3 linked regions of the Homo sapiens genome follow. The protein of the gene in region 2 interacts with the protein of the main gene of each other region in a pairwise test. Each region holds a gene or a part of one and is shown on either strand. Other genes may lie near its edges. The genes, in order: SYTL4, TBC1D1 and APPL2.

The links.
Region 1: the proteins of TBC1D1 (region 2) and SYTL4 interact in binary tests that used the Homo sapiens proteins (3 or more experiments, as listed by UniProt).
Region 3: the proteins of TBC1D1 (region 2) and APPL2 interact in binary tests that used the Homo sapiens proteins (3 or more experiments, as listed by UniProt).

Annotation. Positions count from the first base shown.
Region 1 is NC_000023.11:100,687,122-100,697,688, reverse strand, and holds part of SYTL4 (synaptotagmin-like protein 4), read left to right. Parts: intron 1-6,479; coding exon 6,480-6,581; intron 6,582-7,050; coding exon 7,051-7,126; intron 7,127-7,523; coding exon 7,524-7,614; intron 7,615-7,729; coding exon 7,730-7,833; intron 7,834-9,245; coding exon 9,246-9,338; intron 9,339-10,443; coding exon 10,444-10,567. UniProt on the Homo sapiens protein: Modulates exocytosis of dense-core granules and secretion of hormones in the pancreas and the pituitary. Interacts with vesicles containing negatively charged phospholipids in a Ca(2+)-independent manner.
Region 2 is NC_000004.12:38,046,196-38,056,762, reverse strand, and holds part of TBC1D1 (TBC1 domain family member 1), read right to left. Parts: intron 7,146-10,567; coding exon 6,865-7,145; intron 4,865-6,864; coding exon 4,703-4,864; intron 3,658-4,702; coding exon 3,538-3,657; intron 2,565-3,537; coding exon 2,425-2,564; intron 2,089-2,424; exon of another isoform or gene 2,013-2,088; coding exon of another isoform or gene 1,774-2,012; intron 984-1,773; coding exon of another isoform or gene 797-983; exon of another isoform or gene 614-796; intron 1-613. Other genes in the region: uncharacterized protein LOC124900692, read left to right, coding at 797-983, 1,774-2,012. UniProt on the Homo sapiens protein: May act as a GTPase-activating protein for Rab family protein(s). May play a role in the cell cycle and differentiation of various tissues.
Region 3 is NC_000012.12:105,187,608-105,198,174, forward strand, and holds part of APPL2 (DCC-interacting protein 13-beta), read right to left. Parts: intron 10,347-10,567; coding exon 10,158-10,346; intron 8,021-10,157; coding exon 7,978-8,020; intron 7,920-7,977; coding exon of another isoform or gene 7,895-7,919; coding exon 7,838-7,894; intron 7,743-7,837; coding exon 7,654-7,742; intron 2,549-7,653; coding exon 2,384-2,548; intron 2,218-2,383; coding exon 2,165-2,217; intron 841-2,164; coding exon 666-840; intron 1-665. UniProt on the Homo sapiens protein: Multifunctional adapter protein that binds to various membrane receptors, nuclear factors and signaling proteins to regulate many processes, such as cell proliferation, immune response, endosomal trafficking and cell metabolism.

The sequences.
Region 1 (10,567 bases), on a different chromosome or scaffold from region 2:
ATCTTCTTTCTCTCATTTTGTTTTATCATCTTGTATTTGAATTCTTGCACTTTATTGAATTTATATTATTAGTTCCCCTGTAGTGTAAAGCACTCACATGAAACCTACTTGTTTTCCTAGGGTTAAATTCTTCTCCAGACTCGGTTCTTCATCCATCTTGCAAATTGTTTTCATTTCTCTCCACTTCATGGCTATTTATATATCTGCCAGACTATTATTTCATTTTACTGAACTTTAATATGGGAAGTTTTGTCTGTATCTTTTGTTTCCTCTGATATAGCATATGTGAGTTCTTCTCACCTTAACTTGAAACAATTTATCTTTTCCCCATTCCCAGCTGTACTTTAGTTTAAGGACTGAATATTGCTTTTTATATTTCTTTCCTTGTAACCTGAAGGGGTAGGTGCAGAAGGCAACTTGGAGTCCTGAGTTTTGGTCTCATGAAATTCTCTTAAATGTCCTGGTTCAGGGCTTACCTGTCCCAGATCTGGGTTAATCCCCTAGCTCATACCAGTGCCCTGGGAGATGACATTTTGCATCAGTCTTGTCTGTCTCTGTTGAGGTTCTACAGTGGTACCTGGGGCTATAAATCTTGAGGACTTCTGTTTTTCTTGACTACTCACTCACTTAATCTGCAAATTGCTACATTGGAAAGGATTAGTTAAGGAGCTTTGCTGAATTAAATCTTCTGTTTTCTTAGGTGCGATTTTTGAAATCTGTGACTTGAGGCTTTATTTTTGACTCATTTGGTTGTGGCGGTGAATTTTTAGCTTTTGTATGGTGTGTGTGTGGTTTTTTTTTCCCCTAACTTTCACTCACCCAAAGGGAAATGACTTTATCATGTTTCATATGATTGTTGAAAAACAGCATAGAAATGTATAAAGTAAGTCCTCCAGTAACCTCACTGCTTCTTCCCCAGATAATTATCGTTAATAGTTGTGAATAGTTTTGGCATATGGACTACCAAGCTGTCTAAATATACATATATGGGTTGGGTTCCTAAGTTTTTAATTTCTTTTTCTTTAAAGGATGATACTATAAACATGTTAAGTGAAAAAAAGTGAAAGAAAAAGAACTTTAAAAACTCAATAATACAGACAATCCCATAGAAAATGCACAAAAAATTTGAACAGACATTTCACCAAAGACAATATAGAGATGTCAGATAAGCACATGAAAAGGTGCTCAACATCTTTAGTCATTAAATAAATTTGACCTAAAAATCACAATAAGATACTACTACATACCCATTAGAATGACTAAAATTAAAAAGACTGACCATGCCAATTGTTGGTGAGGATGTAAAACAACTGGATTTAAAAAAAATTTTCTTTTCTACATTTCCTCCTTGCTATTATAAACAACTAGCATTCTTATACACTGCTGGTGGGAATGTACAATGGCATAGCTACTTTGAAAAGCAGTTTAGCAGTATTTTAAAAAGTTCATTGTGCACCTACCTTGTGATTAAGTCATTTCATTCCTGGGTACTTACTCAAGAGAAGGGAAAACGTATGTTTGTACAAAGACTTCTACGTGAATGTTCATAGCAGCTTTATTTGTAATAGCCCAACCCTGGAAATAACCCAAATGCTCATCAGCAGGTGAATGGATAAACTGATTTGTTTATACGGTGGAATACTACTCAGCAATGGAAAGAAATGAACTATTGATACACGCAATAACATGAATGAATCTCAAAATAATCATGCTGAGTGAAAGAAGCCAAGCAGTAAAGAGTACATACTGTATGGTTCTGTTTGTATAAAAACTAGAAAATACAAACTAGAAAGCAGTGACAGAAAGCAGATCAACACTTACAGGAAGGGCAGGAGGGATTAGAATGGGGCAGGAGGAAACCTTTGGGAGTGAAAGATATGTTCATTAACTTAATTGTGGTGATAGTTTCGCAGATGTCTACATTTGTCAAAATGTCACGTTGCACACTTGAACATGTGCAGCTTATTTATGTCAGTTATTACTCAAAGCGTAAAAGAAAAAAATTGTAGAAGGATATAACATGAACATCTTTCTGTGTCAGCACCAAGGATCTGTTTCATTCTTTTGACATCTGTATGATGTTTCATTGTATATATGGACTGTGATTTTTATCTACACAGCCTTGGGTGGGTGACTCATCCGTTCCAGGTGATGAGGCCCCCTTTTTTCTTTGTGGATTAAGGATAAGAATGGCTTTTATTTGCTGAACCTGATTAACACATCTGACATCATCAGTCAGAATGTAATTTCTGAAACCTATTGCTTCTGGTTGTCTGTGATCTCTTGTCTCATTGGACCCAGAAGACTCTTATTTATCCTAAACATGAAAACAGATTAAGTGACCATAAATGATCTTTCCCATGAAATTATGGAGCCTCAGAGATAATTTAATTCAACCACCCTATTTTTGCAGAAAAGAAAGCAGGATAAGTGATTTACCTGAGATCATACAGATAGTTAGAGCCCAGGGCTCCCATCTCTTAGTCTATTTTTTACTGCACAGATGTCAAATAATTGCTTTTCTGCCCTTGGGTTGTTTGTATTAGCTGTGGATTGGTATGTATTAATCTTTAGGAAAAAAAGGAAAAACCACTCTCCATGGACCATTGTTAAAACTACCTCTCTGGAGGAATGGTTCTGCTTGGGTTTTTTTGGCGGGGGTGGGGGTGGGGACAAAAGGGGAAAAAGGACAATTCTAAAGTAAAAAATGAAATCAAGCCCCCCTGCTATGTCTTGTGCTATACAAGTAATACATCTTTCAAGGAATGACTGACATTTCACCTCTTGTAAGTACTAGGATTTCAGCCCTGCTGTCTGTTTTCACAGAACTGTCAAACATCATGTGACAACTTGGAGAGTTTATTCTTTACTGGCTAAGACATTATAGATTTTGGTTACCTCATTCTTTGTGCATCTATTAGTTTGTTTGTTTGACAAATATCTATGAATGCCTACTATGTGCCAGGCATTGTTTTAGACCCTGAGATACACTGGTGAATACAAGGCCTCTTGTTTGTGGGGCTTAGATTTCCGGGGTGGGAGATAAAAAGATAGTCAAGTAAATGTATGGTATATCAGATGTTGACAGGTGCTGTGGAGAAAATGAAGTAGACCAAAGGTATAGGGAGTGCCAGGAATGAATGTGTGTACATATACTGTTTAGGATAGCCAGGGCAAGTCTTAACAACAGGGTAACGTTTGAGCAAAGATATGAAAAAAATGAGGGAGCAAACCCTTAGGGTATCTGGGGGAAGAGCATGTAGATAGAGAAAGAAGGAGGTATAAAGACCCTAGGGTGAGATTTTGTTTGGCACTTTTGAGTAATCTGAAACTGAGTGAGCAAGGGAGGCTGAGGAAGGAGTTGAGGACAGAGATGGGATGAGAAGCAGATCATGTTAAGACTTTGGTGGCACTTGTAAGCATTCTGTCTTTTACTCCAAGTAAGAAGGATGGCTCTGAGGGGCACAGCCTTATTTTGTCTTCTTTTTAAAAATGGAGGTAAAGTTGACATAACATAAAATCATTTTAATCAATTTTAAAGTATAAAGTTCTGTGATTGTTAGTACTTTCAGAATGTTGTGAAATTAGATCACCACTATCTAATTTCAGAACATTTTCACCATCCCAAATAGAAACCCGATAGCCATTAAGTAGCCACCTCCATTTACCCCAGCCCCTAATATGCTTTCTGTCTTGATGGATTTGCCTAATCTAGACATTTCATATAAATGCAGTCATGCAATATGTGGCCTTTTGTGTTTGGCTTATTTCAATTAGCATAATGATTTCAAAGTTCATCCATGTTGCAGCATGTATCAGAATTTCATTGTCTTTTATTGATGAATAATCCATTATATGAATATACCACATTTCATTTGTCTAATCATGCATTGATGGACATTTAGGATGTTTTCATCTTTTGGCTATTAGGAATAATGCTGCTATGAACATTCATGTAACATTTTTGTGTGGACATATATTGTTTAGTTCTGTTGGGTAGGTACCCAGGAATGGAATTGCTGGGTCATATGATAGTTCTATCCCTGATTTACATTTTAAAAGCTCATTTTGGCTGTTGAGGGAAAGTCAAAGCCAAGGGAAGAAGCAGGATTAGTTAGGAGGCTACTGCAACCATCCAAGAGCTACATGATGGTGGTTTGGACCAGAGTAATGGCAGTGGAGGCAGTGAGAACGTATCAGAGTCTAGGTATACATTGAAGAGGATTTGCTGACAGATTTGATTTGTATTGTGAGAAAAAGAGGAGTAACCGATGATTCTTAGCGTTTTTGACTTGAGAAATGAAAGGGAATTGCCATTTGATGAGACAGAGCGAAGAGCAGTTTTGGGGGAAGATTAGGGCTTTGGTTTTGGGCTTGCTGTGTTTGAGACATCCACGTGGAGACATTGAGGAGGCCATTGGAAAAACAAGTCTGGAGTTTGAGTAAGAGATAAATTTGAGGCCGGGCATGATGGCTCACGCCTGTAATCCCAACACTTTGGGAGGCTGAGGCGGATGGATCACCTGAGGTCAGGAGCTCAAGACCAGCCTGGCCAACATGGTGAAAACCTGTCTCTACTAAAAATAAAAAAATTAGCCAGCCATGGTGGCACAAACCTGTAATCCCAGCTACTCAAGAGGCTGAGGCAGGAGATCGCTTGAACCCAGGAGGTGGAGGTTGTAGTGAGCCGAGATTGTGCCACTGCACTCCAGCCTGGGTGACAGAGACTCCATCTCAAAAAACATAAAAAATAAAAATAAATATATTTGAGTTATTAGTTTATTGAGGATATTTAAAGCCATGAGACTAGATGAGATCATTTAGGGATAATTCTAGATAGAGAGGAGGAGCAGCCCAAGGAAGAAGTTTGGACATAATCTAAATATTAGAGGTCTACGGGAGGAGGAAGGACTAGCAAAGGAGACTGAGAAGCAGCAGCCAGTGAGGTTGGAGGAGGAAACCAGGAGAGTGTGGTGTCCGGGGAGCCAAGGGAAGTTATTTGAGATATTTGAGGAAGAATCGATGTTTTTTCCCCCTTTTCCTGCTGCTCTCACTAATTCTTTGAGGTAAGGGGCCGAGGAACCGTATCCTTCCCTTGAAAGATGAGAACTGGTATTTTGAATGCCCAGAGTCATCCTTCATTAAGGCGATTAAGCTAAAAAAAAGAATTCTGGTCACCTGAATACTGTCTTCTAGACATACTGCTTATTTATGGATATATCTCAGTCCCACTGAGGGCATTTATTCAATAATTCAGTCAATAAAAATACTTGAGTGCATACTCTATGCTAGTCTCTCTTCAAGGCACTGAGAACACATCAGTAAATAAGATACGTGGTCACTGATCTTATGGAACTTTGTCGAATGGAGGAGAAAGACATTAAATAATTTGTTTAAATTATTGAACCAAATAAATAATTTGTTTAAAATACATAAATAGTTACATATGTGGTGACTGTTACTAGGAAATCAGGATGCTATGGGAGCACAGAGGAAGGTTACTAATCGAGACTTAGGGTGGGGGCATGGCCAGAGAGATCTGGAGGAATTGACATATAAGGAGAGACCTGAAGCAGGAGTAGATTGAGGCAGGTGAAGAAAAGTGGCCATTGTGAAAAGAATATCTTAGGCAGATAAAAGAGGGAAGATGGAGAGCTTCAGGATATTCAGAGAAACAAAATAACTTTGTCTTTCTAAAATATAAAGCTTGAAGGAGGAGTAGGGGGTGAAAAATGAGACTGGAGAGGGTGAGCAGGGGCCAAATCATGAGGATTTCTTGCCATGCTAAGGAGTTTCAGCTAAATCCCAACAGCAATGGGGAACCACTGAAGAGTTTTAAAAGTATACTGAGGGCCGGGTGTGGTGGCTTACGCCTGTAATCCCAGCACTTTGGGAGGCCGAGGCAGGCGGATCACGAGGTCAGGAGATCGAGACCATCCTGGCTAACACATTGAAACCCCATCTCTACTAAAAATACAAAGAAATTAGCCGGGCATGGTGGCACGCACCTGTAGTCCCAGCTACTCGGGAGGCTGAGGCAGGAGAATGGCGTGAACCCAGGAGGCGGAGCTTGCAGTGAGCCAAGATCGCGCCACTGCACTCCAACCTGGGAGACAGAGTGAGACTCCGTCTCAAAAAAAAAAAGTATACTCAGCTGGGCACCATGGTACATGCCTGTACTCAGCTGGTACACCATGGTACAGTTACTCAGAAGGCTGAGGCAGCAGGGTTGCTTGAGCCTAGGAGTTAGAGACTGTTGTGCACTATGATGGCACCTGTGAATAGCCACAGTACTCCAGCCTGGGCAACATTGCGAGACCTTATTTCTTAATTAATTAATTTATTATATGTTTAAAGTATACTCATATTTATTTTAGAAAGATCACTCAGGCTACGATTGTGAATGGATTGGAAAGAGGCCTGACTAGAGGCAGGAGAACCTGCTTCCTTTCAATATTGGCTCTTGGTTTTTATTCTAGTGTGCTATTTGAAGTGCCAAAGCTGAAAAGTGGAAAGAGTGCATTGGAAGCTGAGAGTGAGAGTCTGGATAGCTTCACAGCTGACTCGGATAGCACCTCCAGGTGGGGTTCCCCCCATTTCCCTCATCTCCTCTCAACCCAAGTTGTGATTTTGTTCTGCAGCATCAGTGTTCCTGACTTCTGTCCTCAGGAAGTTGAACGAAGTATTTTCTCTGTCCTCAACAGAAGTCTTTTCAGTAGCACGTCTACTGATTTGGCTCTGAGCACAGCTTCCTGGAACACATTGACATCTCTAGTCAATTCCCCCAGTATCTTGGAGTATTCTTCTTAGCCCAGTAGCAACTGATGCTGCTGTCCCTTAAGAATGAGGGTGTGAGTGTTTGTGTTTGTGCAAAGTTGCCTATCTGATCTTCTGCATTCCTTCCAGGTAAATCACATGCGAAGTGTACCTTCTGAATTTGGTTATTACGATGACCCAAGCCATTGGCTCTCCTTCCATAGAGCTTTGATCCCTGGGTAGAAGGGGAAGGGTAGGAGGTGACTTAGTTATAATTTCTGAATCTACCTCCAGGAGAGACTCTCTGGATAAATCTGGCCTCTTTCCAGAATGGAAGAAGATGTCTGCTCCCAAATCTCAAGTAGAAAAGGTAAGCTTCAGGTTATTGAGCCACCTTCCTCCCCTCCCTTCCTTCCCTTTCTCCTTTACCTCCTGTCTCCCTCCGTCTTTCCCTCCCTCCCTCCCCCTCACTCTTCTCTTCCTCTTTCTTCCCTCCCTCCCTCCATTCTCTTAGGCAGAATTTAAATCAGGAATTTCAACTAAACAAATTTCAGTTCAAATTCACTTGGGAGCATTTTCTGAAGTTTTGTTTGAAATGTGTGAGAAAATAGGTTTTGTACTATTTCTAGGCATTTAATCTTTCCTTTAAGTTTGTCATAGTTTAGCGAAAATCTGAGCCTTATTCTTCTTAAGACTGTCCTTCCTTACTCACTCCTTCTACCTATCCATCTGTTCTTTTCCATTTTCTTGCCCTTGTTCCTTCCTAGGAAACTCAGCCTGGAGGTCAAAATGTGGTATTTGTGGATGAGGGTGAGATGATATTTAAGAAGAACACCAGAAAAATCCTCAGGCCTTCAGGTAACTGGTTTCCCTTACTGGTCTTTCAGGACTGAAGTTCTGAGTACCCTTGATGGGCTCTTGGTATGGAGAAGAATAGGTCTCTTTGATTTGGCTTTTTTGGTCTTCCCCTCAGAGTACACTAAATCTGTGATAGATCTTCGCCCAGAAGATGTGGTACATGAAAGTGGCTCCTTGGGAGACAGAAGCAAATCCGTCCCAGGCCTCAATGTGGATATGGTAGGTGCCCTTATATTTTACTTGGTCACTATATGAAATTTTACTTATCTGGAGTTGGCTTTAGTACCTGATATTCTCAGTCAACCTATTTAATTCTTTAAGAAAAGGCAACATGAAACTTGATACCCCCAAGTTTCTAAAGTAAATCTGGTTCCTGATTTGCTTAAAGGAAAGGACTGTCTTTGCTATCTCTTTTTTTTTTTTTTTTTTTTTTTTGAGACGGAGTTTCGCTCTTGTTTCTCAGGCTGGAGTGCAATGGCACGATCTCGGCTCACTGCAACCTCCGCCTCCTGGGTTCAAGCAGTTCTCCTGCCTCAGCCTCCTGAGTAGCTGGGATTACAGGTGTGCGCCACCATGCCTGGGTAATTTTTTATATTTTTAGTAGATATGGGGTTTCACCATGTTGGCCAGGCTGGTCGCAAACTCCTGACCTCAGGTGATCCACCTGCCTCGGCCTCCCAATTTTTTTTTTTTTTTTTAAGAGACAGCATCTCACTCTGTTTCCCAGACTGGAGTGTAGTGGTACAATTATAGCTCAGTGCCACCTTGAACTCCTGAGCTCAAGCTGTCCTCCCACCTCAGCCTCCTGAGTAGCTGGGACTATAGGCATGAACCATCATACCCAGCTAATTTTTTTTTTTTTTTTGAGAGATGGGAGTCTCACTGTATTTCCCAGCCTGGTCTTGAACTCCTAGGCTCAAGTGATCCGCCCGCCTCTGCCTCCCAAAGTGCTGGAATTACAGGCATGAGCCATCACGCCTGACCATCTCTTTTATTTTCTAATAAATTGCTGGATATATGGCTGGGGCTCAAATAAATACTTCTTTTGATTAAAATGTAAACAGGGTTGGGGAAAGTCAAATGGAAAAGAGTTATAGCTTCTATGAAAAACATTAAATATTCTTATCTTATTCTTTTGAGATATGAGAAGGATGGTTGGAATAGAGCTGGGAACCCTGAAATGGGAAGACATGTAAAAAGAAGGATATGAGGCCAGGCATGGTGGCTCATGCCTGTAATCTCAGCACTTTGGGAGGCCGAGGCAGGCGGATCACCTGAGATCAGGAGTTTGAGACCAGCCTGGCCATCATGGAGAAACCCTGTCTCTACTAAAAATACAAAAATTAGCCAGGTGTGGTGGCGGGTGCCTGTAATCCCAGCTACTCTGGAGGCTGAAGCAGGAGAATTGCTTGAACCCAGGAGGCGGAGGTTGCGGTGAGCTGAGATTGCGCCATTGCCCTCCAGCCTGGGCAACAAGAGTGAGACTCCGTCTCAAAAAAAAAAAAAAAAAAGAAGTATGTGTGCGTACACATACACATGGCAACTTGGAGCTTTAAAGGAAAGATATTAGTCTTTGAAGCTAAAGAAAAGTCTTTCTTTTATTAACTCTGAATTTATATTTATTGTTCCAGGAAGAGGAAGAAGAAGAAGAAGACATTGACCACCTAGTGAAGTTACATCGCCAGAAGCTAGCCAGAAGCAGCATGCAAAGTGGCTCCTCCATGGTAAGTTCTATTAGATCTGTGGTTACAGGCATGTTGGGGTACTAGGAAGAAAAGAAGCACCTCCCTAGAGCAGATTCGGGACCTGGGGAAACCATCCTAGTCACTCTTTTCAGGTAAGTAAGATCATTTGTTTGTTCCTATCCTCAATTTAGACTATAGGTGCTTAGTGTACATCTAGGTGACTTCCTGAGCCCCCACCTGGAGATTATTACATTACAGCTTGGGACATTTTTCATCACAGCTTTGTGAACAATAACCTTAACTTATCCTCTAAAGGGGTACCCAGGCTATGAAGTGAGCAAGATCAGATTTCTTCATCATAGCCCATTCCAAATTCTCAACATTAAAAGAAAGTGAGTGTCATGAGAGGGGCTCTGGCAGGGTTGATCGACATCAGGGTATGGTTAACAAGCAATAATACCAGTCAGGATAATGAATTTAAAGGGAACATTTAAGAATCAGGGCCTGGTTCTGTCATAAGCATGAAGATTGATATTTAGGGAAACAGGAACAAGGGTGAACAGAATTTGTTCACACTCACACACAGGAAGAGAATGTCAGCTCGCATGACCGATTACTACCAGAAAGGAAGGTGCCTTTTCACTTCTGGTGGGGTTTCCTCCCTCCCACTCACTCCCAGTTCTGGCCAAATCTCTTTTCTCTGTAGGCCCTGATAAGACATAAGGTGGATAAGAGAAACCCACAGATAATTAAGGCACCTTGTTTTAGTTAGTAACTAACCCCCTTCTAGCTGGTGTTTTAGTGTATATAACACATTCCCCAGATGGACTTAACTGCACCTTGCCTCTGCTCCCTGCCCACCTCCTGGGGCAGGTGAAAATGAACACTAAAATTTGTAAAAAGAGTTGAGGAAGAGAAGCTAAGAGGCTAGGTGAGCCATGAGCTGATTCATTCACCTGAACAATTTTGAGTGCTGGTAGTTCTCTCTTACCCTCTGGGTCAAGGAATGTCAGCAGCACTGGCTTATTGCAGGGGCTTCTGAAACTTCTGTTCAGTGACTGTGGTTTTATCATGAGGGAAGATGTGAGCAATGCGGGCGGGGGAGTGTGCCTTCCCCAGATGTTCGTGGGTGCTTTATCTTCAGAGTACGATCGGCAGCATGATGAGCATCTACAGTGAAGCTGGTGATTTCGGGAACATCTTTGTGACTGGCAGGATTGCCTTTTCCCTGAAGTATGAGCAGCAAACCCAGAGTCTGGTTGTCCATG
Region 2 (10,567 bases):
GATCACAGCTCACTGTAAACTCAAACTCCTGGGCTCAAGTAATCCTCCTGCCTCAGTCTCCCAAGTAGCTAGGACTACAGCTTCACAACACCACGCTCAGCTAATTTTTATTTTTTTGTAGAGACAGGGTCTCACTATGTTGCCAAGGGTGGCCTCGAACTCCTGGCCTCCAGGGATCCTCCTGCCTTGGCCTCCCAAAGCACTGAGCTTACAGGCATGGTCAACTGTGCCAAGCCAGGAAACCAGTCCAAATTTAAATAATGGTTCATATCCCAAAGGACAAGATAGAATAAGAGCCAAGAATGTTTGAGTTAATCACTTAAAGCAGAAACAGATTATGAAGATCAATCTGCATTAACAGAGCAGTGGCAGGTCAACGGAAGGAGCAACACACTGCCAGAGCCAGAGGCCAAGTGAACACCAAGTTCAACTCAGGACTCCAGGAGGGGCAGAGGCTCTTCGGAGGACAGGACTCGGACCAGGGGTTCCCAAACAGTGACGAGGGCAATTCCCCTGGAGAAGAGAGCTAAAGGAGGCAGCAGCTTCCATGGTCCTCTGTCATCTGAAGGGCAGGAAACAGATGCAAACACATTTCCGTGTGGCTTCAGAGACCAGAGAAGAAGCCAGGAATCAGAGGACAGGGAGGCAGGATGCGGCTCAGTCTGTGAATGCTCGTTTGAAAACTTGGAACTGTTCTATGATGGAGCAAGCAGTCATCTGTGGCCCCTAACGCATCCTGGCCACTGCACAAAGCATTTCCGAGCAGAAATTTCCAAGCGACCATGCCCTGTGAGGTATGGCCACCGCAACACCGAGGCACTCTTTATTAAACACCGAAACTTGGGTTCTGGCACCCCTTTCAGACATGAATCAGCTTCGTTCCTCCTCCAGGGCCTCCCTCTGGTGGCTCTGGTTCCCACTGCTCCACTCCACACCCTCTAACAGGGTGCTACAGGACCTGGGAGGAAGAGCCCTTCTTTGCGGTAAGCAGACCTCTCCACGGGGCAGGGGAAGAGAGATGTGGCCATCTGGCTCACACTGGCAGGAAGAGAAATCAAACCCTGGCTAGGCTCAGCAGCTCCACCGAGGGGCCACCCACGGCAGGAATACTTTATAGGTACAAACTACTTGAGGGAAAAAAGGTGCTGGTGAGTGGCAGCTCCATGGTGCCCCCACATAGAAAGGCTGGGGCAAAAGAAGCAAGGGGCCAGGCTCACCCGAAGGACTTCCACAGCATGGGAGGTGACATTACCCTGGAAACATTCGCATCACTGATTTTCTTTCCAGTACTATGAATTTTGAATGCTTTAAAAAAAATGTATCAGTAATGATATCATGCTGCCTTGTCTCTATCAGTGTGGCAACAGGCATAATTAATCCCAGGTTATAGGTGGTAACTTTAGACAGTTTATTCTAGTTCACAGCTCCTAAGGGGAAAAGCTGGGATTTGAAAGCAGACTCCGAAGCCCACGCTTTGGTTACAGCGGGTAGCTCGTCAGACATGAGGACGGCAGGAGAGGGCCCTTTCCAGATATGCACCAGCAATGTCAGGCGACCATCAGGTGTTGGTCAGGCAGTTGTCAACTGTTTCTCTAAAGTGATCGTTGGTCACAGCGGGCACCAAGGAAGGGCGGGCTCCCAGTAGATAGAAAACACCTAAAACTGGGGAGCTGCAGCTTCCCAATAAGATCTCGGGAGCTGGGCGAGTGGGCTCAAGCATGCGCATTAAGAGGCAACATGGCGGAATTTACCTGGTGCATGACGTTCCTCTAGGAATGCTAGACTGGACAGGGAAGAACGCCTCAAGTGAGCACGCCTACAACTCCAGTAAACACCCTGCGCACGCTCCCCCACAACCCCCGTGTGCTAGCACGCCAATGCACATGCGGACAGCCCACCCCAAGGGAAGAATCAGAGAAGAAGGAACGCAAGACCCCGGAAGTATGGCAGCATATAAAACCCCAGGTCAAAAGGCCAAATCTCACACTTCATCTCTCAAGTTGCCCGCCTAACCACCTTCAAAGTGTACTTGACGTCCTTTCATTCCTGCTCTGAAGTTTTTAATAAACTTTCACTGCTGCTCTAAAACTTGCCTCAGTCTCTCCTTTTGCCTTATGTCCTAGGAGGCAAGAAGTGAGGTTGCCGCAGACCTGTCTGGATTCACCGCTGGTTAACACTGTGACCACTCTAAACATCAGAGCTCTGCTCCTGTTTATGGAGAGGTTACCCTAAATTAGCTTTAAATTCCTTCCCTAAGAAATGGAGGGTAACCTCTAAATTCCCTCCCTAGTTACCTTTGTGATTGCCTCAGACCTGCCAATACTGAAGAGGACGGCGCTCTGCTTTCTTACCAATATGATGGGGCTCCCAGGGTCCTCTGTCAGCGTGCTCTCTTTGAGGTTTCATTTCAGGTACCGGCCTTACCTTCATATCTGCTGGAAGAATCGCACGCCTTCTGCGGGGTGGCTACTCGGAGGAATATCTGCTGCCTCCAGGAATGCCTCCGGGTCTTCACAGGAGTCCCACCAGAATCACCAAGATGGTTTGCTTTGGATTCAAAGTCCCTAAAATTATAAGATGATTGATTTATGACTAGTGGGGAGGAATTCACGGGATTTTGTTAGCTTAACATTTTTTTAAACAAATCACTAAATTATCAACTATCTTTGTATAAACAAATAATCAATCACAGAAGTTATATCAAGCTCACAGTGGGTCATCATTCCTAAAGAACTGCTTTCTTACAGAATTCTTTTCATGAAAAGAGAAAGATTACATGCCCTTAAGTGATTTCGATTGTAACAGAGATTAAGAAACATGTTCCACATATCATAGTTCCAATTGGGCCTCTCTTGGTGCCACTTTGATAAAGAGAAACTGCCTAAAGGGGGAAAGGGGGTGATGCCAAGGGGCCCCATTCTGCCCTCTTCTGTGCATGGGAATATCTGCTCAGCACAGGCCCATGTCTCCAAGGATTCCCACAAAAAATGAAAAAACTTGCAATTTAATTACACAGAACCAGCAAGGCAATAACTATGCAGTCACTTGATGATGATAATTGTTTTAACGTGTGTATTTTTTAAACTACAAAATACAGTTATCAATATATAAACACAATCATAAATGTTTTCTCCTATTCACAGGACAACCTGAGAAGGCCCTTCCAATTTATACCCAAGTTATGTACCTGTAAGTAAGCAATCCCCTCAACTTACAGATTAGACGTCCTGAACAGATCAGACATCCTGATTTGAAACAGACATATGCTCACTAACCAGAAACACTGGTCTCAGAGACTTGGCAAAGACTTTTCTTAAGATAACACTTAAACTAATCCTCGTCAAAACTAGAGAACAGGTTGGTTGCACATTTTTAAAAATGGCATTCAGTAAGAAAAAAGTATAAGAAAGAAGATACAACAGATTTAGCTGAAATGATTTTTTAAATGGCAAAATAGTAATTAAAACACCCTTGTATATCTAATGATATTCAACACTTAGTAACACCCAGGCTTGATATATCTAAATTAAGCCCTACCTTTTTGTGTTCATAAAATCAGAGGTGTTATTTTCATCTACAGGAGCCAGAAATTTTAGAAAATTTGGCACAGAGGAAGAAGAATGAAGTTTTTTCCGCAGGGCATTACGGTAGGAGATGCTAAGAGTTTGGTTGAAAAAAGAGTTTAGGATAAAGAAACATAAAAACACAAAGTATAAAATATAAGCTTCAAAATAAAAGAAACATTTTTGTTCTAATGCTAAGAAAAGAAAACTAGGTAAGAAATTAAAAGTAGTTCACGAATGAGATTTAATTTTCATTTTCACCAATAAAATTTGATTTTAAATGAATGGGATCAATAATTTTTTAAAAAAGAAAATCCATCCATTTTCCAAATAACTCTTCCTTTCAAACTGGGAAAAATAATTCCCCTAAATCAATCAGGAAGTTTCTGATATGGCACAAATTGCAGTGTACATGATCAAACACAGATGTTATCCTGTGTGTGTGTGTGTGTGTGTGTGTGTGTGTGTGTGCGCGCGCGCGCGCGCGTGTGTGTGTATATACGCATGCATGTAAGTGTCCACTAGGGCAAGGAAATGTGAAAATAAGTATAAAAAAACAATTTGCAGCAGGGTGCAGTGGCTCACACCTGTAATCCCAGCACTTTGGGAGACTGAGGCAGGCGGATCACTTGAGGTTAGGAGTTCAAGAACAACCTGGTCAACATGGTGAAACCCCATCTCTACAAAAAAAAATAAAAATATTAGCCGGGCATGGTGGCGTGTGCCTGTAGTCCCAGCTACTCGGGAGGCTGAGGCAGGAGAACTGCTTGAACCCACAAGGCAGAAGCTGCAGTGAGCCGAGATCACGCCACTGCACTCCAGCCTGGGGAACAGAGTGAGACCCTGTCTCAAAAAAAAAAAAAACAAACACAAACACAAACCAATCTGCCATTAAGATCTGTTTTCATAATAATCTTAAGAAAAGTCATCAATAGTAAAATTAACTTGGTTCAAATGACAGCTGAAAATAAGACAAAATATAAACAAAGACACACACGCGCGCGCACACACACACACACACACACACACACAGTGGCTCTGCTTCCTGCATGGACATTCCCCCCATTCAGCACATCCTCATCAGTGTGAACTCCCCAGGAAAACAGACAACACCAAACTTGCCACGTGAGTGTGCTCACCTCTTTGGCACAGCATTCCCACTTTGTTCTCCACTGGAATTATGTTTTAGGTACTTAAAAAAGTTTGGCGAGGAGGCGGAGGGGTTAAGACGAGGTGGAGGAGCAGGAGCTGAAGACTGACCTGGGCGGTGCTTAGACTCACCCACAGGTGAAGGATCCACACTAAACAGCAATCAGAGAAAGCACGGGGGGGTTAGCAGGAGAGGGGGCGCCGACAGGGACACGGAGCAAACAGGTGGAAGGAGCACACCGCTTTTGTCTCGTTGTTCCAGTAACACTATCAGAGTGGAGGACTTCTTCCACTCCTTTTCCTCATCTCTGCTCGCTCTCTGGCAAAGGTAGTTTTCAGTGAAAAACAGAGTATATTGACGGCCGTTCTTGACCATTTCCCACGTGTTTATGCTCCCAACAATACTTTTTTTTTTTAATAGGTCTCACTCTATCACCCAGGCTGGAGTGCGGTAGCACGATCACAGCTGACTGTGACCTTGAACTCTTGGCCTCAAGCAACCTCCCACCTCAGTCTCCCAAAGCTCTGGGATTACAGGAGTGAGCCACTTCGCCCAGGAACAATAATATTTCTTTCTCTATTTTCTTTTTCAGGAACTGGCAGGAAAAAAAATTTTTAATTAAAGTATAAACAAAAGCAAAAAAAAACTGAACTTTAAAAAATACATTTCCCTTTAAAATGAACAATATCCTGCCCTGAATTTCAATGTCTTATTTCCTGTAGATAAATCGGAAAAGAGCTCACAAGGGGGAAAGAAAGCAGAATGGGCCATGCTAGAGAGGCAGACAGACAGGCATCTCCTCATCCCTCCCATTACGGATGTGTGACATCATCTATTATAAAGCTACATTCTTCATGGAGAAAGGAAAAGTACTGATACTAAGTCCTATCAACTCTGGCTTTTGAGAAACAGCAGACTTCACAAGAGAACTAGGACTCTCCAGACAGGAATGTTTCAATGATCACTGAAAACGCCAACAACAGAGGAGTGGGCAGGCAGTGGTGAGGCAGCACAGAAGTAATGTGCAGACAGGGTGTTAAACACAAGAAACTTACACAGCTACAACCCAACGATGTGTGTCTCTAAAAGCGTGTATTTATTAAGCAGTACCTTCTGACATGTCCCCTGCTTTTGGGATCACCACTACCCCGCTGAATTCCAAAGAACCAAGAACTCTTTCCAATGGCTGACAGAAAACAAAGCTGGGAGGCTCTGCTCCATCATCCAGGACTGTTAATGCTCACACTTCTTTACTCAGAACATTCCAAACACTTCTGTACTAACTCACACTCTCAATGATCCGTGTATGAACTACACGAACACATAGGTCCTGGGACTTCTGCGGCTGCTGGTCAGAAGAAGGCAGCGACTGTACACAGGTGTGACCTTGATTCATATTAGGTGAGAGATTTTTAAAATTGTTTAAAGTTGTTTTTAAAGATAACTGTGTCCATTTATAGTCTCTGGCACACAGAGTTAAATGAATCACTAAGGGACACTTGGAAGGAATGGGGGGAACTTCTGATTACTCTTCTCCATAACCAGACGATTCTAACTGGTCACAGGAACCCAACTATTACAATGAATAAATCTTGTTAGAAGAATCTAGAATTCTTACAGTGAGAGATTTTAGAAAACATCTACTCCAATTTTGTTATTCAGAGAATTTAGCAAATTCGTCCAGGTCACAATTAGTTCACGGCAGAGCTAGGACCAGAAGCTGAAGCACCCCTGTCACCCTATGAGGCCAGCATACCTCTCTTGCTCTGCCTGTAAGGATCAGCGCCTCTCCCTCCCATTATAACCCTGCTCCAGGGCTTCAGATGGGGAGACTCATCCGCTTGCCCTCTTCCTCACAGCAGCAAAGTTCCACAGTCAACAACGTCTCTTACTTTGTTTGAGGAGTAATGACTATGCATGTTAGGTACCATTTTTGCTCACTTTCACTTGCTTCCTGACAATACAAGTACCCATTGCTTGTATACTCACAAGCAGCTCGAACGAACATGTCACTGCTTCCAGTTTTATCTCCAAACCAAGAGTAAAGCCTGACTCATTTCTCTCACTCAATAAACATACCTGGGATGCACATACCTGGCTAGTCACAGATATGCCCCAGCTATTTATGCAACAAATTTAAACAAATCTTACTTTCGTTCATGAGGCGTCTCTGTGCTCACTGAGTGATACCTCATAAGTTTCCTTTGCGAAACCCCCGGGGACCCCCGGGCAGGTTGTGGAGGTTCCTGGCATTCGATGGGGAAGTGACTCAGGGTGTTTGCTCGCCTCCTGAAGGCCTGCTGGGGCGACAGCGGAGCTGGCTCTTCTGGGAGATGACTCTCCGAGTCACTGGACAGGTCCTCCGAGGAGCCGAGGAGCTTAAAGGAGCTCTCAGAGATGGGCAAGGCCTCCTTTTCACACACAGATGGCTCCTGGGAGCAAACACACAGCAGATCAGACACACCATGGGGAATATGTGGGATTTATAAATCTCTAGTTCCTGCACGGGCAAACATTGCAGTATCTAAGTATGTGTTCTGATTATAATGCCATCTAGAAGCCACCACCAAAAGCAGAAGAAAATGAAGGTCCATTAAATAAATGCCCGCTCCTCAAGGACACACTGCTGGCTTGCTGGAGAAATGGGGAGACTGGCCAAGTGCAGGAGTGAAGGACATAAGCCACAATCTGTAACGTTCTGAACAACGCCATGAATAGTGCCCTCTCTCTAGAAAACAGGACTGTTTACTGCAGCTTCTAAGGGGTGTGAGTGCTGGAGAACTTGTCTCCACTGCTTAACCAAGTTCTTTATCTTTGCCACATGTGTTCACTCATGTTAAACCCACATTTTAAGGCTCTCTCCGAATCTGATCTACTGTTGAGATTCGACTTCATAATTTGAGATTAAGAACTGTATCAATATTCTTAGAATATGGAAAATCACTCTGTAGGCACTTACTGCTGCAATTCAGGGCAAATAATTTCTTTCTGCACCTCAATTTCTTCTGTAAGAGGGTAAAGTAAAAATGTATCTGAGTTTCAAGAACAAAGCAAGATGATACAACCAAAAGTACTTTTTATGTTGTAAAATGTTACACAAACATAAGTTATTGTTTTATTAGGTATGCAATAAATCTATGGAGTGAGTGCTCAAACATTTGTTGAGAATCATGACAATATTTTAAAGTTGTATGCCTTCACGATGCACGCTTTTTCAAAGGAATGAACTACTACCACTCAAGCAAACTGATGTTTAACACTGCACCCAGGACGTGGCTAGTGGCCAATATATTTTTAATATATTCAAAATATTCAAAAAGAGGAATTGTAGCAGCTTGCTCCTATTGAAATTGTTGGAAGAGAAAAAATAAATCAACAGGAATAGAGTAAACAAGAATGAATGCATCTAACAGTGGACTGGAGACTGAATTCTACCTGTTCATTTACACAGTTGAGTGCCTTTTAGGTAACAAGTATTGAGGGTTTTAATTTGAAAAAAAAAAAAAAAGAAATGTGTTTACCAAAGGGAGAAGTTACATACATTTAATTGTATAAGAATTAGGAAAAAATTCCCAACATACTATGAAATATTGATTACTTTCATAACTGAAGTTTTTCATTCTTCAGGACTCAACAGTTGTGAAGATTCTTTTAAGGATTTAAAAGTCTCTCTAAGACAATACATCACAGAACACAATCTCCATCATGCAAACCTGTTGATCTAAATTCTTACTAATATCCCTCCAAATCATATCAAAGAGCTAACCCTTAGCTTAATTGGACAACTGAAAGGGCCATTTTCATTTGTCAAGTTTCAGGGCTATTTGGTTTCTTTGCAACTCCTAGGTGATCAATTTTTTAGAAGGGATCCAATTACATAAAATAGAATATAGTAGTTTCTCAATTCAAGATGAATAAAAGAAAGATGTAAAGTACACTTAAACATATACAATACATACAAGCAGCTTCTGAAAAGTTGCATCTCTCTTAGAATGACTCTAGAAATTGCAATCTTAGACAGACTTTTAAATCCTTTTAAAAGAATCTTCACAACTATCGAGTCCTGAAGAATGAATATGTATATATTCCTAGATCTGCCTTTTGGAGAAAAATAAAAAGCAAGCAATAAGGCTTACTGGAAAGCCCACTGAGTGACATGAATGTCTTCATGGTATGTCTATTGACACTGGTCTGTCTAGAATGCCTTCTTCTCTGTTCACTTCCATAGGCACAATTCCTACACCAAGATTTAGTCCAAAAGCATCACTGCCCCCTCACCCCTCACCTTTTCCCTGGTTCCACTGACCAAACCTAACTTCCCTTCCCCTTGCTCTTCTGACACTGAAGTTACCAATGTCTCTTATTTGTAACTTCTGGGCTCCTACCACACTCTGCTTGATGCTGGGGCTGTTTCTGTATCTGTCATCTCTCTCCTCCTAGGTAACTTCCTACATGAAAGGGGCGGTGTGTGGTTCATCTGTACACAACAAATAAGCAAATAGCCTTCCCACACTTGCAATGAATTGCAGGGTGGGATCAGTGTGTATTAGATGGAGGCTGGACGACACTATGTTCCCCTGGATTTTAACTCAGAAACTCACATTTACAAGACTGCTGTCTAGGACCTCACTCCCCAGAGGCGGTCTGCAGACCAGGAGCAGCAGCATTGCCTTGGAGCTTGTCAGAAATGCAGCATTTCAGGGCTCCCCCCACCCTGCCTACTGAACCAGAATCTGCACTTTAACCAGTCTCAGCTACTCAGGAGGCTGAGGCAAGAGAATGGCCTGAACCCGGGAGGCGGAGCACCTGAAATTTGAGAAGCACTCATCCATCTAAGGAAGTGTTTCTCAAACTGCTCCCTCTATCATGTTAGTAGGTGGTACAACTGAGTAGTTTGCCATGAGCATTTTAAAAATAAAATAGAACAAAATATCAGTATGTATTGTATGTTGTTCACAGTAAATATTGTTTTGTGAACTTTTAATTTTGTGTGTGAATGTGTAGGTATGTGTGTTTGTGAACTACGCCACAATGTTAAATGTGCTTCTTACTGTAGGTTAGAAAAATTCTGAAAGCCATATGTCTAGGAGGGATGGCAGAGGACTGTAAACCCTGCCTGTGGTAAGGAGCTGGCCTCCACAAACACTCCCTCCCTCACTACTGCCAAAGAGAGTCCTCTGGTAGCAGAAGGGAAAGCTGGCCTCCCTAGCACAAAACCCAAACCCACTTTTCAGGAGTTATAAAGTTGAACTGACCAGGCTTAAATATGATTAAATGTCTAGAAAGCAAGTTATTAAAAGAAGGACATAGATACTTGCTTATTTAAATAAAACAGTAATGTTTCATTATAATCATAGAGCCAGCTACAGGATAAAGTTTCAGAAATTTAATTTCCCCACAAGTGGGGGAGAATGAAAGGGGGTGTGAAGGTTGAAAAATTACCTACTGGGTACAATGTTCACTATTTGGGTGATGGGTACACTAGAAGCCCAATCCCCACCAGTATGCAATATACCCATGTAATAAACATGCACATGTACCCCCAAATCCAAAATAAAATTTTCTTAAAAAAAGAAAAATTTAAGCTGTATACTTCTCTAAATTCACAAATCCACTTTCTGATGTTTTCCCAATATTAATTATTTTTTTAATAGGAAAATCTACTGCTTTTTTTTTTTTACACAGAGTCTCTCTCTGTCACACAGGCTGGAGTGCAGTGGCGTGATCTTGGCTCACTGCAAGCTCCGCCTCCCAGGTTCATGCCATTCTCCTGCCTCAGCCTCCCGAGTAGCTGGGACTACGGGTGCCCGCCACCACGCCCGGCTAATTTTTAATTTTTTGTATTTTTAGTAGA
Region 3 (10,567 bases), on a different chromosome or scaffold from region 2:
AAAGTAACAGATAAAATTAATTTTACTTAATCCAGTATATCTAAAATATTACCAGACATGTGATTAACCTAAAAAATTAGTGAGATGTTTTACATCCTAAATCTTAGAAATTTGGTATGTATTTAACACTGAAAACACATCTCAGTTCAGGCTAGTTTTGCTGCAGATGCTACCTGTGGCTACAGTATCATACACCCATGTTCATAACCAGGATTTTGGTCATATCTGAAACCCAGATCGTATTACCTGAAACACTAAATCATGTAGTTAATATGGCCTGCTCTCTCTGTGATGGCCAAGTTATTTAGGCAGATTTTTAAGTTTTTTTCCATTATTTTTTATAAATAGTACTCTCAGAAATGAAAAAAAAAAAGCAAAACCAAAAAACTTCCATTTTCAAGCTCTGAGCTATAATATAGAGAATAAGTCTAGTGTGATGGCATCTTTGTGAACAACAGTATTCACTCACCACTGGATTTTTGAAGATACCAGTTCTTGTCTCTAAGGGAGCACTTTCTAGGCTATCTATCTTATGTAAAAAGTAGTGGGGGCAAAAGCAAGAGTAGTCTCTTCATTCCAGTACTAACATTTCAGATGGGTGCATTAGCCTTAAAAGGGGAATTAGCTGAAGCCATAAGAAAGTCTGAAAATAAAACTGAACGTACCTCAAAGATTGACTGGTGACCATCAGATGGGATTCTGTCATGCGGAAGATGTTATGAATAGCCCGAGCAGCCAATACTTGTCTCATCGCTTCATAAATCACTTCAGTAGTGCTGTCTGTTTTAACTGCCATTGATCCCAAAAACCGAACTATAAACATCTGCTGCAAAAGAGAATCTGGAAGACAGCATTTTCCACTCAGGATCTCATTTACTTCCTGCTGCTGTTGATCTGCATACCAGGGTCAGATGTGCTAGTTTTGCCTGCTTTCTGTGGAGGACTTTCTACCAAAATTTCTCAATACCACTTTTATAAGCCCAATATTGCCAAAGCTCTGCGTCTTCCATTTGTCTACATCTTGTCAGTTTGTTTGGAACTACTTCATTAGACTAGAAAGGCTTTTCTTCATCTATAAAATGAAATGATGGTGGTACCAGATGAACATCCTTCTAATGCTGAAACTCTAGGTGACTACATTGTACCTTTTCTCTGAAAAGAGTGAGTTCACTAGACAATAGAAAATTCATTACTTTGGCCCACTGATAAAGTCCTCTTAGAAAAGAAATTTTATTTGCAGGATATAAGATCTCATGTTGGGTCTCATGCAATTCATACTTCATGTGTATTACGGAAAGGCAGTGATGATGTTTCATAGCCTAAAGGAAGTCAGTCCTGGCTGCTGACAGTGGCGCATAACTTGACAAAACTGACTCCCAGCAACCATAACTAGAAGACCAAAGAAGGTTTTTTCTTTTTTTTCTTTTTTGAGACAGGGTCTCACTCTGTAGCCCAGGCTGGAGTGCAATGGCATGATTTCAGCTCACTGCAACCTCCGCCTCCCAGGTTCAAGTGATTCTCATGTCTCAGCCTCCTGAGTAGCTAGGATTACAGGCACCTGTCACTACACCTGGCTAATTTTTGTATATATATATATATTTTTGTAGAGACAGGGTTCTCACTGTGTTGCCCATGCTGGTCTTGAACTCCTAAGCTCACGTGATTCACCTGCCTCGGCCTCCAAAAGTGCTGGGATTACAGGCGTGAGCCAGCGTGCCGGCCATCAGATACGTTCTTAAGTACATTATAAGAATGTAAAAAACCAAAAATTTGAATTTGAAAGACTTAAATATCATTTGTGTCATCTTCAAATTCAAGAACAAGTTATTTGTGCTTTTGGTTTTCTAAAATGACACAGCGTATTTCCAGTTCACCAAGACTGCATTTGAATGTGATAACAGATTCAGATTTCACAACATTTCTATGCTATGCTACAAAAACGCTATGGCTAATGGTGAAATAGCTGTAGGTGGTCTTTCAGCTACCCCTCAGTTTTTATCCAAGACTTGCCTCCACTGCAGATATCTTACTAAACTTTCAGAACAACAAATCTTAATTCATACTCCTAATCATAGCTCTCTAAAACATGATTTCACATCTTATTTCAATGGCCGTTGTCATTTTGTGCAGAGGAAAGAATAAGGACACCAAACTAGTCACTTACCTTCTGCTTCTGGAAATGATTCATCCTCAGTTTCACCAAAAGGGTTGGTACGCCTAGGGGAATAGCCAGAGTTGAACAAACACGACAGCTGCAGCTAGAAGGGCACTTAACACTTGAACTGGAAATCAGAATGGCAACAGTCTTTGGTGGTGGAGGGGGACACAAGATACCTCAAATTTACTTTCAGTTCTCCCAGAGATAACCTCTCTCAGCCCATACCTGCTCCCTCTGTTCTGATCAAGGAATTCTGTAGCAGGAAGCACAATATCGAATTGAATCGGCGTTCCAGGCGCGATCAGCTCCTCTGCTTCAGGTAGACTGGCTGTTGCTTTGGGAACAATCTTGTCATTTTCATTTTCCATCTCTGAATTTTTCAGGTTCTGGCTGAAGGGGAAAAAAATCAATTCCCTTAACCTTACGCTTTTATAATCAAGTGAATACTTGTTGAAGGCTGAGGTGACTTTTATGAATGAAAATACAAGGGGAAAGATTGACCTCAATCCCTTAATCCATTCTACAAATAAACCTTCTTCAAACTTCCTTCATATCCTTGGCTAAAAACCTTCAGTCTGCCCCATTTCCTGCAGTTCTCTCTGCTGCACAGCATCCTGCACTGTGTTACTAGTTTTCTGTCTGTATCCTTCTCTGTGAGGCAGGTTTTGGAGGGCCTATGCTATAGCTAAGTCATATGTATTCTTGGAACATAGTAGGCACTAAAAAATGTTAGCTGAATGAACCAAAGGTCCTGGCTTGGCATTTAATCACCATCTGGCTCTAATTTCCCCAAAAGCCTCCCTTTCCACTCCTTTAATGCACCCTCTACGAGAGCTGTACCACACATACCACATGCTTTTCCTTATTTCCATCTTTATCCCAATTCTGCTGCTCACCCAACTCTCCCAACCCAGCTCAAATTCTTCCTTATCCACTAGGCCAGCCGGCACCCCGCCTCCCTCCTCTGAACTCCTGTGATTCTTCTCAGTAAGTCACAGGCACAGTCTTGCGGCCCTGTGTGCCTCCTGAGCTTCGCATTGTGCCCACACTCATTGCTGACATTGTGGCCCATCAAATACTGTGCTCTCTGTGGACAGACTAATCAGGAACCAACATGTTCTTCTCCTCCAGTCTCAGAATACTGTAATTTAACTTTTCAACGTTTTAAAAATCTTTTCTCCTCAGCCAGACTATAAACTCCTTTGAAGGGCAAAGAATATCAATGTATTTTGATTTCTTTCATTGCCTGGACCTTAAAAAGCTCTCAGTGATCTTTCTGTTCATTTGATATGTCAATATTTTCCTATTTCTCAAACATGTCAATAACTGAATGTAGTGTATCAAACTACTTTACAACAGGCATTTGACAAATGATCATAATGACTGGAATGTGGATGAAACAGTACATAGGCTTGTAGATGGTCACTGCAAGGCAAGCCCTTGGAGACCACTTGGTCTGACCTCCATTGTTAACAGAAAAGGAAACTGAGGCCTCTGGAGAAATTGAGCAGTTTTGAAGGCACTCAGTTACCTGGTGGGCGAGCCAGATTATAAACAGGGGTCTCCTCACTGCCAGGAGAGTGCATCTCCAGGATGTCATACTGCTTCAATAACCCTAAATGGGACAGTCACATCTGTTTGATCCTGTCTTTAAGAGAGGGCTGTGATATAATAAGTGGTAAGCACTGAAGAAAGCTATGAGTAGAAGCTTCAAGGGGAGAAAGTGAGTCTAAGATTTTGGCTCCCCAGAGAGTCAAAGGGGGGAGATAGATAACAATCAAGATAGGGTGAGGCCAGGTTGTAGAGGGCCCTTATACCGTCAGGTGGGGTCTGAACTTGACACAACAGTATAGGGAGCCACCAAAGACTCTGAACATAGGAGTGACATGATGTTAAGTTTCACCTGTACAGGATCTCCATGTCATCAGCTCTAATGGACACTTCGCAGTCATCATAATTGACTTAAAGCATCTAACACAGCTGATCTCTCCTTGAACTCTCCTCTCGGTTTCGGCTGGTGCCACATTTTACAGAGTTTCCTTCTACCTTTCTTGATGTTCCTTCTCAATGTCTTTGGCAGGCTCCTTTTCTACCCTAAATGCTGGAGTTCTTTAGGATTCTGTTGCAGGCTCTGCTTTCCCCTCCCTCTCCTTTCTCCCATAGAGGACCTCATCCACTGCTGTTCAGTGCTATGAGTCCCCGATTCATACACCCAGACCAGACGTTTTCTTTGCACTCCAGACCTGTATCATCCGTTGACTGCTTGACAACTCATTTGGGATGTTTCACAGGCCTCTCATGCTTAACATGTCCAAAACATGAACTCTTCTTTTTTTTAAAAAACACCATCTGCCCAGGTGTTCAGCTCCAACTGAAGTCATCCTTTGATCTGTCCTTTTCCGTCTACGCTTATCCATCAAAAGTCCCACAGGTTTTACCTCCAGAATAAGTCCACATCCATCTACTTTTCATCTCTGCCGTGATCCTGGTCTAAACCACCATCATCTTCTCTTGGGCTGTTGGGACGCCTCCTCACTGGCTACAGACTTGCTCTGTTCTGTGCTCTCCAGAGCAGCCAGAGCTAACTAACTTTGGAAAATGGAGAGTGGGTATCTCTGTCTCCATCACAAACACGCACCTCTCAGAGCCCTTCCACAGCTCCCCACATGCTTCCTTCTTGATCGACCCCTGCCTCCCTCCCCACCCGCCCTCATCCTGTCCCATGATCTCCACTGTCCCGTTACACTGCCTTTTTTCAGTTCCTCAGATATACTAAGATCTTCTCTGTCCTGTTACCTCCACAACTGCTACCAAGAATACACTACTTCTGGCTCTTTGCAAGAGTGGCTGCGTCTTGTCTTTCACTTTGCAGCTTGAATATTATCTTCACAGCCAGGCCCTGCACAGGTCTCCTCTTCACCCTCCATGACAGCACCTCATCTCCTTAACATTGGGGTGCTTCCCTCATTTTAACTCAGCCTGTGCTTACCTTTTGCCTGTTCTCCCCAGTAATCCCTGCGTTTTCTTACCTAGGCCAGGCCTGGGCAAATAGTAGATACTCAAATATTTGTTGAGTAGCTAGATAAATGAATGAACAGCAGATATATAGTAACTGCAGAATGAGGGAAGTCCACACATGGTACTTGCTTAGAAGTAAATAGCAGTTTGTTCCCAAGAACACAATTTCTCTGATTCTTTCCCCCCCCACTGTCATCAAAACATTGCTTTATTCTCAGTGGGCTGACCCTAAAAGAGATAGTATCCCTCTCCCCACAGCTCTGGGGCCATCTGGCAGCCACATCTGTCACCCATCCAATCACTGGGCTAATTCAGCTGGCTGGCTAGAGTCATTTTTTTTCCCCCCAGGGAGTCTTCTGTGTCCCTTCTGTGGGGTCCTTTTGGTCTAAGAATGTGACTTGCTTATTCTAGAATAGGGGGAAAAGTCAGTTACTGAATAATTAAATATAGGCTGCAAATTGTCTTTTTAGGAAACGTATCACACCTTCTAATTCCAAACCCCCCTAAACTATCCATCAACACCCTTGAGAGATGGCATATCAGAGCTAGAAGGGTCCTAGGAGGTTAGCTAGTTCCCTGTATGTCACAAGGCTGAGAAGACAAAGGCCCAGAGCATTTACTGACTTACTCAGGGACATCTAGCTGTGTATAACACAAGGCAGAGATATCGTTAGAACCCATGTCTCTCAACTGCAGGTCTGGTATTCCCTCCATTGTGCACATCAAACATTTTTGTAACTTTACAAAGAGAAGACATACATTTACCCAGGAGAAGGCTACGGGATTAACCCTCGCTGACTGGATCTTTAGTTCCACTTCCTTTCATATAGTGTCTTCCTTAGAGTTCCATTTCATAAAGCATGCTACTTGTATCAACTGTTAAATCCTTAAGTTACGGTGCTGAAATGTTTCTCGGACTTGTTGCCTCTTTCTCCTCTTTTTTAAAAACATTTGTTTACGTTCTCATGTTCTGCTTCACAGCTACTACTACATCAACATCCTACTGGGTCTTGCACTCTCCCCTTCTTCCCACAACCTGTATCCTAAAATTTATCCTACTCAGGTACAGAATAGTCTTCCCTAACCCTGGTTCTGACCATCGCCCATTTTCTCAAAACCTTCCATTTTGCTCCATTGCCTGTAACTCCTAAGCAGGGCACCCAGGTCTTTCCAGTTAGACTCAAACCTATTTTCTGGCCTTACCTTCTCCCATTCCTTCTCAGATACCCCGTGCCCGGCATGTGAACGCTGGCTCCACACTGCACAGATTCTGGGAAGTTACTTAACCACTGAGTTTTCTAATGACTTCCTTCTGGGGTCATTAGATATTTGTAAAAAATGTAATGGGGTTCTTTCTACCATGCCACTAAAAGATGAACACCAAATATAGTCGTAATTTTAATTTACCCTTTAATGCCAGGCTTTCATTAGTATGAAAATACAATCCTCTACTATTTAACCAGATGGAAACTCCCATTAAGACAAAAGGTAGGATTCCTGGAATAAATCCTAAAGCACTATTCAAAATGAGGAAAGCTGTATGCATGAAAATGTTTGCTCTAAATGATAACAGTAAACGCCAGGGAGATAACCTAAATATTCAATGGTTAATAAATGGTAGAATGGGCCAGGCGCAGTGGCTCATGCCTGTAATCCCAGCACTTTGGGAAGCTGAGGCGGGTGGATCACTTGAGGTCAGGAGTTCAAGACCAGCCTGGCTAACATAGTGAAACCCCATCTCTATTAAAAATACAAAAATTAGCCAGGTGTGGTGGTGGGCGCCTGTAATCCCAGCTACTCGGGAGGCTGAGGCAGGAGAATCACTTGAATCTGGGAAGTGGCGGTTGCAGTGAGCCGGGATTACTCCACTGCACTCCAGCCCAGGTGACAGAGTGAGACTCCGTCTCGAAAAAATTAAAAAATAAGTAAGTAAAAAAATAAATGATGGAATAGGGTGTAGTTACTAAAAGGAACAATTCTGAAAAATGTAGAAATAGTTAAAAAAAAAAAAAGTATGTGCAAATACAAAATAAATGTACATATAAAACTATCACTGTATGTTCAGATAAGGCGTGGACATTAACATGGGATACATAAAAGGCGATTTTTTTTTCCTTATTTTTTAAAAACATTTTTGCTTTCGTTCCCTTACTTTGTTGACACTGATAGAAAATGTGGGGAGAACTCCTGACTAGGAGGACCCTCCATGCACGTCCTGTTTGCTTGGACTGCAGCAGCATGGTCCAGTGGAAAGGACAGGGATGCTGACATCAGACAGGCTTGAATCCTGGCTCTACCACTCACAATGTGGTGTGAACACAGGCAGGTATTTAACCTTTCCCAGCCATCGTTACTGCTTCTGTTAAACAGGCTGAAAAACATGCCTTGGTTTGTGTGGATTAAGCAACAACTCATTTCGTATTCCTAATCAATAATTTGGCTCCACAAAAGCTAGTTTTTCTTTGTCCTTTAGTTACCTGGGGCATGAGCTTTCTTGTTTTTTTCCAAAACTTGTAATGGGAGTCACTGCTTGCAGAGCGGTCTGATTCAACTTGATCGCGACTGCCTAAAAATCCACAGGAAGACACACTCAGTCCCAGGAGGTGGACGCTTACCTTCCAGGTTGAGAAAAGGGCTGAGATGCCGGTGGCTGATAATTACCTCAGGGTTGTCGGTCAGGTAGATCTGTCTGGAGATGTTGTTTATTGCACATATCCACTGTAGAGGACATTAAAAAAGAACACTGAATCCCAAAGTCACCCACCACGTTAGGAAAGAAATATGACAAACAAAATTTTTACCTCTTCATTTTCCTTTCTGCTCTCAGCCTGGAGGATTATTCCCCTGAAACAAAAGTGTCTAAGTAATTAAGTGCTTCCCTGATCTCAGTGACTGGGAATTTCTCTACATAAACTGAACTTAGCTGGGGTGTGGGAGGAAAAGTGCCATGAAGGCAGCATGATGAGAGGGAAAGAAAATGGGGTTCCAGGGCCAGGTGCAGTGGCTCATGCCTGCAGTCCCAGCATTTTGGGAAGGTGAGGCAGGAGGATGGCTTGAGCCCAGGAGTTCGAGACCAGCCTGGGCAACATGGTGAAACCCCCTCTCTACAAAAAATACAAAAATTAGCTGGGCGTGGTGGCGTGTGCCTGTAGTCCTAGCTACTAGAGAGGCTGAAGTGGGAGGATCGATCGAGCCCAGGAGGCTGAGGCTGCAGTGAGTGGTGACTGTGCCACTGCACTCCAGCCTGGGTGATAGGGCAAGGCCCTATCTCAAACAAAAAAAAAAAAAAGAAAAAGAAAAAAGAAAATGGGCTTGTAGGTCTGGCTCTGCCCTGATTCACTATGTGATCTTGGACAAACATGGCCGTTTCCCTGGGCCTCAGCATGTTCATCTATGAAATGAGAAGGCGGGACTCGGATCTTCTAGCCCAAATCTGTGTTTGTACAGTGAGATCCACCTGTTGACCTCCTCTAATGATCCAAGATGACCAGGACTCCAAGCCCAGCCACTCCTCAAACCATGCCCAAAGAAGGACTTGGCAGCCCATTCACTCCTTTCCCAGAACTGAAAAGTCTGCTGCGTATGGAGGCCCGGGAATAAGGTAACAGTAATACTGCCCTACCTTTGTGGAGGCGTTAACTCTTTTTTTTTTTTTTTTTTTTTTTTTTTTGATGGAGTTTTGCTCTTGTTGCACCAGGCTGGAGTGCAATGGTGTGATCTCGGCTCACCACAACCTCCGCCTCCCAGGTTCAAGCGATTCTCCTGCCTCAGCCTCCTGAGTAGCTGGGATTACAGGCATGCGCCACCACTAACGTGCCCGGCCAATTTTGTATTTCCAGTAGAGACGGGGTTTCTCCATGTTGGTCATGCTGATCTCAAACTCCCAACCTCAGGGGATCCACCTGCCTCGGCCTCCCAAAGTGCTGGGATTATAGGCGTGAGCCACTGTACCCAGCCGAGGCTTTAACTTTTTAAAGAGACCCCACATCTGCCAGTTCCCTTGTTCCTCTCATCTGTGGCAGATGGAGTAACATAGATCTTATCCCTATTTTATATCTGAGGAAAGTGAGGCCCAGAGGAGGTAACTGCAAAGGACCATGATGAGCATCCAGGAATCTCCATTCCCAGGTCATTTCCCATCACCAAAGCAGGAAGGATGAGGTCTAAAGCTGCTCTGCCAAGCTGGGAGGAGAGACATCATCCCAATGCCGTCCCCACCCCTACCCCTGCTGTTCAGGTCAAATCTTAATAGAATGCAGTGTGAGAAGAGCGGCTCTGATGACGGGCAGGGCCACTCCTCTCCCCAGGCAGGTGAACCCTGAAGCCCCTCCATGGGACCCTGAAGCCCCTCCATGGGACCCTGAACTCCTTGGAGCAGTTTAAAAACCACCACTCTGAGAGGGGATCCCACTGGGATGGGATCTACTGTGAATGGCCACAGCCTGCGGATTGGTAAAGTACCACCTCTTTGGGGCCCCTCAGGTACACAGGACATGTGGGAACAGCCTGGCAGCCGACGATGCTGCTGCAGTGGAGTACACTTCTCACAACTCCTGCTTCTGCTGGAAAAATGGCCTTCTCAGGAAGGTCGTCCTTACCAAAATAGTTACTCTCCCCTGCTGCAATCCAAACACAAATGCTTCTTTACAACAGGCTAGGAGTAGCCACAGCCTTCTCTCTCTGAGAATCTATGCTAACAAGCACGACTTCTGTTGCTGTCTCACACACGTAGGTCATCTCTTCTCCAAAGCCACAGACAAACCCTCACTTATCTCCATATGGGATAAGGCAGGCTGGATCCCTTATGGGTCATGCGGGCTTGTTTAAAGAGAGCAGAAAATCATCCTCCTGAAAGGTCAACAATACCCAGATTGGGGCCTCTCCCACAGAGGGCTGGCACATAGGAATGAACTAGGAGGCCCTTGGAACGGGTGGAACCACTATACTCATTCTCCTCCCAAATAAAACGCGTGAAACATACGATTTTCCATTGGGCGTGGTGATCTGGAAGCAGTAGCGCCGGTCTTCGCAATCCACGGCCATCACTGAGCAGTTGTCCAGGTCCTGGATCAAACCTCCAGCCACGGCTCCCCTGGGCTGACACATGAGATTCCCGCCTTGGGTGAAGAAATAAAGCCTCTCCCAGGTGGTGGTGACCAGCCCTGTTTTGCTGTGAGTTGTGTTTTAAAAAGCCCATTAGTACCAGAAAGCACCAGCGGCCACCTCCAAGTCTTGCTACCTCGTTATGGGTACTGGTGGCATTTTAGAAATAATGTGTTTCTTTATATCGTTAAAGCAAAACTGCCCATTCAAGTGGAAAGAGCAGCAGAAGGGTACAATTTAGCTGGAATGATCTGGGAGATCATGGGCTCTGCTTCCAAGGGAGACACC